Homo sapiens: one gene and its partner. The protein of the gene in region 2 interacts with the protein of the main gene of each other region in a pairwise test. Each region holds a gene or a part of one and is shown on either strand. Other genes may lie near its edges.

Evidence for each region. The genes of interacting proteins can lie anywhere in the genome.
Region 1: the proteins of LST1 (region 2) and G2E3 interact in a two-hybrid assay, tested with the Homo sapiens proteins (one large-scale study listed by IntAct).

The regions. Positions count from the first base shown.
Region 1 is NC_000014.9:30,607,658-30,611,157, forward strand, and holds part of G2E3 (G2/M phase-specific E3 ubiquitin-protein ligase), read left to right. Parts: intron 1-230; coding exon 231-412; intron 413-3,500. UniProt on the Homo sapiens protein: E3 ubiquitin-protein ligase which accepts ubiquitin from an E2 ubiquitin-conjugating enzyme in the form of a thioester and then directly transfers the ubiquitin to targeted substrates. Essential in early embryonic development to prevent apoptotic death.
Region 2 is NC_000006.12:31,585,098-31,589,076, forward strand, and holds LST1 (leukocyte-specific transcript 1 protein), read left to right. Parts: upstream 1-1,179; 5' UTR 1,180-1,218; intron 1,219-1,601; exon of another isoform or gene 1,602-1,710; intron 1,711-2,102; 5' UTR 2,103-2,202; coding exon 2,203-2,221; intron 2,222-2,543; coding exon 2,544-2,636; intron 2,637-2,846; coding exon 2,847-2,869; intron 2,870-3,399; coding exon of another isoform or gene 3,400-3,420; coding exon 3,421-3,579; 3' UTR 3,580-3,812; downstream 3,813-3,979. Other genes in the region: NCR3 (natural cytotoxicity triggering receptor 3 isoform a precursor), read right to left, coding at 3,970-3,979. UniProt on the Homo sapiens protein: Possible role in modulating immune responses. Induces morphological changes including production of filopodia and microspikes when overexpressed in a variety of cell types and may be involved in dendritic cell maturation.

The sequences.
Region 1 (3,500 bases), on a different chromosome or scaffold from region 2:
TGGTAGGTTTATTGTGTTTTATGTTTTCTACAATAGATTTTTACTTTATATTCAGAAAAATGTGTCTTTTTTTATATTTTAGGTAAGATCTATATTTTCTACATAATGATAGCTTCTAAGAATTATATTTATCTAATGCTTAGATTTTTGGACTAATTTTTAATATAAAAAATGATGGTTATCTTATAATAATAGAAGTGTATTTGATATATTTTCATCTGTATTTACAGCTCTGAAAGAGAATCTTTACTATGAAGCTGGCAAAATGCTTGCCATTTCTTTAGTTCACGGTGGTCCTTCACCTGGTTTCTTTTCTAAAACCTTGTTTAACTGCCTTGTTTATGGACCAGAAAATACCCAGCCAATTTTAGATGATGTTTCAGACTTTGATGTGGCACAGATTATAATCAGGGTAAGCAATGTATCTGTTTATTAAAATGCACACTACATTCTAGGTATCTTTTAATGTAAATGACTGATCTGCAATAAAATAATAGTATTATCTATGAAGGAGTTAGGGATTGTAAACATATATTTCTGTTTACCAGTGGAGTTCTGAACCAGTTAAAAGATAGTTTTAAAAGTCAGATGGCTGGAGATTAAAGTGCCACGTTTAATGTTGGTAAAACCAGTTGGATAATGTGATTTTGGTCTGTGTTCACCATGGCTTGTGAATACTCCTCAGAAATACATGGATTTGCCTGCCTTGCTAGAGACAACGTGAGGCAGATTCCCTATTGCAAGCTAGAAAGCAGATGAAAGTGCACTTTGATGGAGGCCGATGGGTCTGAAGAGAGGAAGGATTTGGCTTACCAGTTAGAATACTTTTCCTTCCTTCTATAGGGAGGTATGAATGATAGATGGAGAGAAAGACTAGGCTGAATTTCTTCCAAAGGGAAACAAGTGGTAGGGATCGGGGAGGACTTAATGCGTCCGCCTAAAAATAGTTCATTTATTCAGCACTTATAATGGGACCTGTACTAAACATGTCACATGTGCAAACACTCATTTATCATAATGCCATATAAGTGTCATTGCCAACATGTTACTGCTTTAAAAACTGAGACAATGCAAGCCATTTAACTTTTCTTCCTTAACCTCCCTCCTACTTAAGCATATTCTATCCATTGTCTCAATTAACAGGCAGTGTTGTTTAATGATTAAAAGCATAGGCCTTAGCCAGGCGTGGTGGCATGTGCCTGTAATCCCAGCTACTCTGGAGGCTGAGTCACAAGAATAATTTGAATCCGGCAGATGGAGGTTACAGTGAGCTGAGCTCACACCACTGCACTCCAACCTGGGCAACAGAGGGAGACACTGTCTCAAAAAAAAAGCACAGGCTTGGAAGTCAGATTTTACTTTGAATGCCAACTCTTATAACTACTATATGTTGTGTCACTTTGGGCATATTAATCTTACTAAACCTCAGTTTCTAAATCACACAGTAAGCACTATTGAAGTGTGAGTTGCTACAGTGTATTACAACAATTCTGTTTATTTGCCCTAAGACTGCTTATCCTAACATCATGTTTTAAATTGACCCTTTAATTCTTCGTTTTTCTTTTTGTGCCCTCTTTACTAAAAAAAAAGTATATTTAAGCTTCATTGTCTCTACTTCGTATTTCCTATTTATTTCTTGTAATCAGGCTTCTGTCCCTACCACCAGTCTCAAGTTAGCTAGTTCATAGTTTATATCCAGGGAGCTAAATATCCATGTCCAAAGGCCTTTTCTAATTTTTCATCTGCTGTGACTTCTGCAATTACCACTTAGAATTTCTCTGCAATATTTTATTTAATATTGTACTTCCTCCTACTTCTGATGATTCTCTCTTCTTTAATGCTTCTTACTTCTTCTTACCCCTGAAACTTAGCATTTTTCAGTGTTGTCTTAACAGTCATCATTCTTTATTATTTGGAGAGCTTCTTCTCTCCTGTAATCTTTCTGAATGATTTACAGACCTGTATTTTTGAGCCCCCGGACTTTTATATACAGATAAGACCTGGGTCTTGCTAGCACATTGAGTCTAACATGTTTAAGATAAAAATAGTATTTTTCCCAGAATTTTTTGTTTGATTGTTTTTTGTGGGGCTTTTTTGTGTTTTTACCTGTTTGCCTTTTCTTTCCAAGAGACTTCTTACTTCCAAGCTGTCTTGGAGAGTCATTTTCATACTCCTCCATTTTCCAGTTATATGTCAAGTCACCTGCCTCTAAGACTGACTTATTGTCAACCTTTCCTTCCTGTTTCTAGTGTGCCTATTTTACCAAACTCAAATTTTCCCTAGGCTTAGACAATTAGAATGTTGTTCTAATATTCTTATTTGGGATGATTCTTCCAAAAGTACAGTTTTGACCATATTGCTTTCTTCCTCAGGAATCCCCCAGTGGCTTCTCATTGCCTGTTGAACGAAGTTGAAGCTCTTCATTAGGGCATTTAAGACCTTCACCTCTCTTCATGGCTTTATCTACTCCAGTTTCTGTACTTTTTATCCAGTGTTTGTTCATTTATTTAAGAAATACTATGTATTCTGTACTGTTTTGTTACTAAAGATAGAGTAGTGAAGCAAAGTATCTGCCTTCTTGGAATTTACATTAAGAGAGAACACAGAAGATAAACAACAAATGTAATATGCCATCACGTAGTAAAATGTATTATAATGCTAAATAAAACAGAATATGGCCGGGCGCAGTGGGTCACGCCTGTAATCCCAACACTTTGGGAGAACAGGTGGGTGGATCACCGGGGTCAGCAGTTCGAGACCAGCCTGGCCAACATGGTGAAACCCCATCTTTACTAAAAATACAAAAAAATTAGCCAGGTGTGGTGGCGCGCGCCTATAGTCCCAGCTGCTTGAAAGGCTCGCTTGAGCCCGGGAGGCAGAGGTGGCAGTGAGCCGGGATCATGCCACTGCACTCCAGCATGGGCAACAGAGTGAGACTCCATCCCAAATAAATAAATGTATACATAAATACATACATGCATACATACAACAGAATAAAAGGAGATGGATAAGGGTTGGAGTATATACAAGTTAGGTTTTAGGCTAAACTTCTGTATCTCATAGACCCAGAAAGACAGTGGCTCAAACAAGGCAGATGTTTACTGTTCTGTAAAATCCATTGTCTAGATTTTAGGGTAAGAGTTGGCAAAAAATGGCCTGTAAGTCACGTTCTGGCTTGTTGCCTGTTTGGTAAATAGTTACATTGGAATGCAGCCATGCCCATTTGCTACTGATCTGACTGCTTTCACGCTACAGTGGCAGAGTTGAGTAGCTGCAACAGATACCATATAGTTTGAAAAGCATAAAATGCTATCTGGCCCTTTATACAGATGGCCCTCTGTTTTCGAGATAGAGTTGTGATTTACAAAACCGTCTAAGGACTTGAGTTCCTTCCTCTCATTATCGTGTAACACTTAGCATTATTGTTTGCATCCACATGGTTGAAGCTTGCTCTTAAAGGAGAAAAGTGGAAGTTGAGAGCAGGGAAGTTTGACATGTTG
Region 2 (3,979 bases):
CCATTTCTACAAAGCCTCATGTGGTAGCTGGTGTCTGTAGTCCTAGCTACTCAGAAGGCTAAGGTGGGAGGACCTCTGAGCCCAGGAATTCAAGGCTGCAGTGAGCTATGATTTCACCACTGCACTTCAGGCTGAGTGACAGAGTGAGACCCCATCTCAAAAACAAAACAAAACAAAAAATGTTAATAGTAGCATCTAGGTGGTAAGAATATGTTCACTGTACAATTATTCTCATTTCACCCTATGTTTGCACTTTTTAATAATAAAATGTAAAAAAAACAAAACAAACAAACAAAAAACCCTGAATATTATTCAGCATGGGGAACATGGAGGATGGGGAGAAGGGTGGGGGAGGAAGTAGAAGGTTCTTGAATTTGGAAGGGGAAACGCAAATTAATATGGACCCACCCAGGCACCACATCTCCTCCTCACCCCTTGCCTTACAGGCGCTCCCCAGTCTTCACCCTCCTCAAGGAGTGGGTGTGCAATCCTCCAGCACCCATCTCCTTCTCCATCACAGTGCCACTAAGAAGCCTTCACCCAGGTCTCTCCAGAGAGCCTCAGGCCGCTGCCTTTACTTAGTTCTGTGTTCAATGCCAGAATGCTGCCTCCTACAGGAAGTCCACCTGTATTGCCCACACCTCCTTTCCTGTCACCAACTTGTCACCAACTTTCTGTCCTTGATCTATCCACAGGGCTCATGTAGATCTAGTATGGCTGCCTTTAACTCTCATGTTTGTTAATCAGACAGCCAAGCAGCCTGCTGCATAGAGCTGCAGAACACCAAGTGGGTCACCAGAACACCAAATATGCCAGAGCTCCCAGTCTGAACTGGAGCAGGGTACATGTGTCCACAGACATATGCCAAGATCAAGAGGTCTCAACAGATGCAGTGTAAGAGGTAATAGAGAAGAGTTAATCAAGGAAGACACCTGAAGGTGGTGGGTGTTTGCTGACTAGTGGCAGGATCAGTGAAATGACTGGAGCTGAGGCAGATTATGGCCCTAGCTACAGGCCCAGAAGTTTGAAAAGAAAGATGTTGTAACCCTAACCCTGGAGCCGAACTTCCTCTCCTAACAATGCTGGGGAGGAACCCAGGCTGGGGGAGAAGTTAAAGCCAGAGGAGGGGCAGGAATGTCTGAGGTGGCAACACTTCTCTTCAGCCAGACAGCACTGGCCAGTTTGGAGTCTGTCCATCCTGCAGGCCACAAGCTCTGGGTAAGCTGGGAATGGGCAGGGACCTTGGTGGAAGGATGGTCACACCCCAGAGTGGGGTGAAGCTAAGATGAGGGGAGGGAGAGTATGGGTTTGAGTTTCCCTGGGCCGTCGAGGAATCCTCTGAGTCTCTGCTCCCCAAAGAAATTAAAGACAATTCATTTCTGTGCCCACGGCCCTTATGGCCTCCACCTGCACTTCTGCTCCCCACCCCCCAGAATTCCTCTTAAACCCAGAAGGGTCCCAGTTTCCAGACCCTAGTCAGTATATCTGGCTCTGGGGTGAAGAGAACGGCCCCCTCTTCACCCTCAAACAGGAACCAGTGGTTGGAGGGGAGGAAGTGCCTGAGGGGAAGTTATGGGGCCCCAGATACTCCTCCATGCCCCACTTCAGCCCTAGCAGCATCTGCCTGTGGGAAGCAGCTCTCCACACCAGCCAAGGGGGCCCCCACACTCCCGCGCTGCTCTGCGGCTCAGGGAGCAGCCCACCTGCTGGGTGTGCTGATATCACCCTCCCTTCTTCCCCCCAGTGCCCACACCCACCCAGGCCCAGGCTCCTTCCCCTCCATCATCCCCTTACCAGCACCTAGAACCATCCAGGGCTGAAAAGTCCCCTCCAAACCACGTGGTCAGCCCAGGGCAGAGGAAAGGGCTGGGCTCTGGAGTTGGGCAGAGCTGGCCTTAAACCCCAGCTCCACCTTTCTGGGATGGGTGACCTAGTAAAGTCCAGGCTTGAATCTCGGGTCTTTACTTGGGCAACGGGCACCATGATACCCTATGTTCTGGGGATTAGCAGTGAGGAATGGAAAGTGCCCAGCTCAGGGTTGGCACATAAGGGAGGCTCCCCAGCCTGGGAACGATTATAACAGAGGGCCCCTCACTTCACAGATGAGGAACTTGAGGCAAGTCACCAGCCCCTGATCATTTCGCCTAAAAGAGCAAGGACTAGAGTTCCTGACCTCCAGGCCAGTCCCTGATCCCTGACCTAATGTTATCGCGGAATGATGGTAAGTAAAGTGTCTCTTGCATCTGCATAGAGAGAGTCCTGGGAGCTTAGGAAGTGATGGGGAACAGTGATGTATGCAGCTCATGACTAGGTGGACAGGCCTCTGGGGACAGCTGGTACAGGAGGGAAAGGGACCTCACGGGAGGCCCAGAAACCTGGTAAGAGGTGAGGTATTAAGGTCTGGGATGGAGAAGCTCTGAGGGTATATTTTTCTGCCTCTAAAACTGTTGGAGAGGGAATCTGAGAAAGCTGCAACCAACCAGGAGGCTGGGGTACGCTGGAGAAGGAATGGGCTTCCTAACCTTGAGCCCTCTTCCCTGAAGATATATGTATCTACGGGGGCCTGGGGCTGGGCGGGCTCCTGCTTCTGGCAGTGGTCCTTCTGTCCGCCTGCCTGTGTTGGCTGCATCGAAGAGGTGAGCGCTGCACTCCCTCCCTCCCCCTGCAGCAGTGCCCCCTGTGCCCCCACCCCCACACGCTTTCCCACTGCTTTCCCAGAACACTGCCTGGCCCTGGAGCCACTGGGAAGCCAACAGGGGAGTCCACGCCTGCTGGTGGGGGGAGCCCGGGAGGGCCCGGGAGAAGCACAAAGGGTGGGCTGTGTTGAGCTTCTTCTTTTCTTCCAGTAAAGAGGCTGGAGAGGAGCTGGGTGAGTCTGGGGACAGGGAAGGGGGAGGGCAAGAGAGATCCTGAGTGGGTGAGTGGGGAGAAGCATGGCTGAGCGCTGAGAGGAGGGTTGGGGACGGGAGACAAGGAGAGAGAAAGTAGGAGCATGAGAGAGGCAGAGAAAATCGAGGCAAAAGAGAAAGAGAAAATGAGACAGAAACCAAGAGAAAAAGTGAGACAGAGGATAGGAGAGACAGGGAGAAAATGAGAGTGAGAGAGACACAAAGAGAAGAGCAATGAAAGAGAGAGAGAGAGAGAGGCTCCAGAACCAGGCACAGTGGCTCACGTCTGTCATTCCAGCTATCGCAAGGCTGAGGCAGGAAGATAGCTTGAGCTCAGGGGTTGAAGACAATCCTGGACAACATAGTGGGACTCTGTCTCCAAAGAAAAAAGAGAGAGAGAGAGAGAGAGAGAGAGAGGGAGAGAGAGAGAGAGAGAGGGAGAGAAGTAAGAAAGGCTGGAGGTGGGAGCAGAACTCACAGGGAAGGATCTGACGGCATCGCCTCCCATCAGCACCTTCTGTCCTGGTCCCAGGCCCAGGGCTCCTCAGAGCAGGAACTCCACTATGCATCTCTGCAGAGGCTGCCAGTGCCCAGCAGTGAGGGACCTGACCTCAGGGGCAGAGACAAGAGAGGCACCAAGGAGGATCCAAGAGCTGACTATGCCTGCATTGCTGAGAACAAACCCACCTGAGCACCCCAGACACCTTCCTCAACCCAGGCGGGTGGACAGGGTCCCCCTGTGGTCCAGCCAGTAAAAACCATGGTCCCCCCACTTCTGTGTCTCAGTCCTCTCAGTCCATCTCGAGCCTCCGTTCAAATTGATCATCATCAAAACTTATGTGGCTTTTTGACCTTTGAATAGGGAATTTTTTAAATTTTTTAAAAATTAAAATAAAAAAAACACATGGCTCACCCTTCCACCCACTCTGGGGTCAAATAGTAATTTATTGGGTGAATGACAGTGTTCAGGGACCCAAGCTCCCCTAACAGCCAGAAGAGGGTATGTGTGGGCCTGGCAGGAAAGGGCAGTTGCCAAGGAGGAGTCATATCTGATCCTTCCCATTTCTCAGGACAATCAGGCTCAGCCTCCT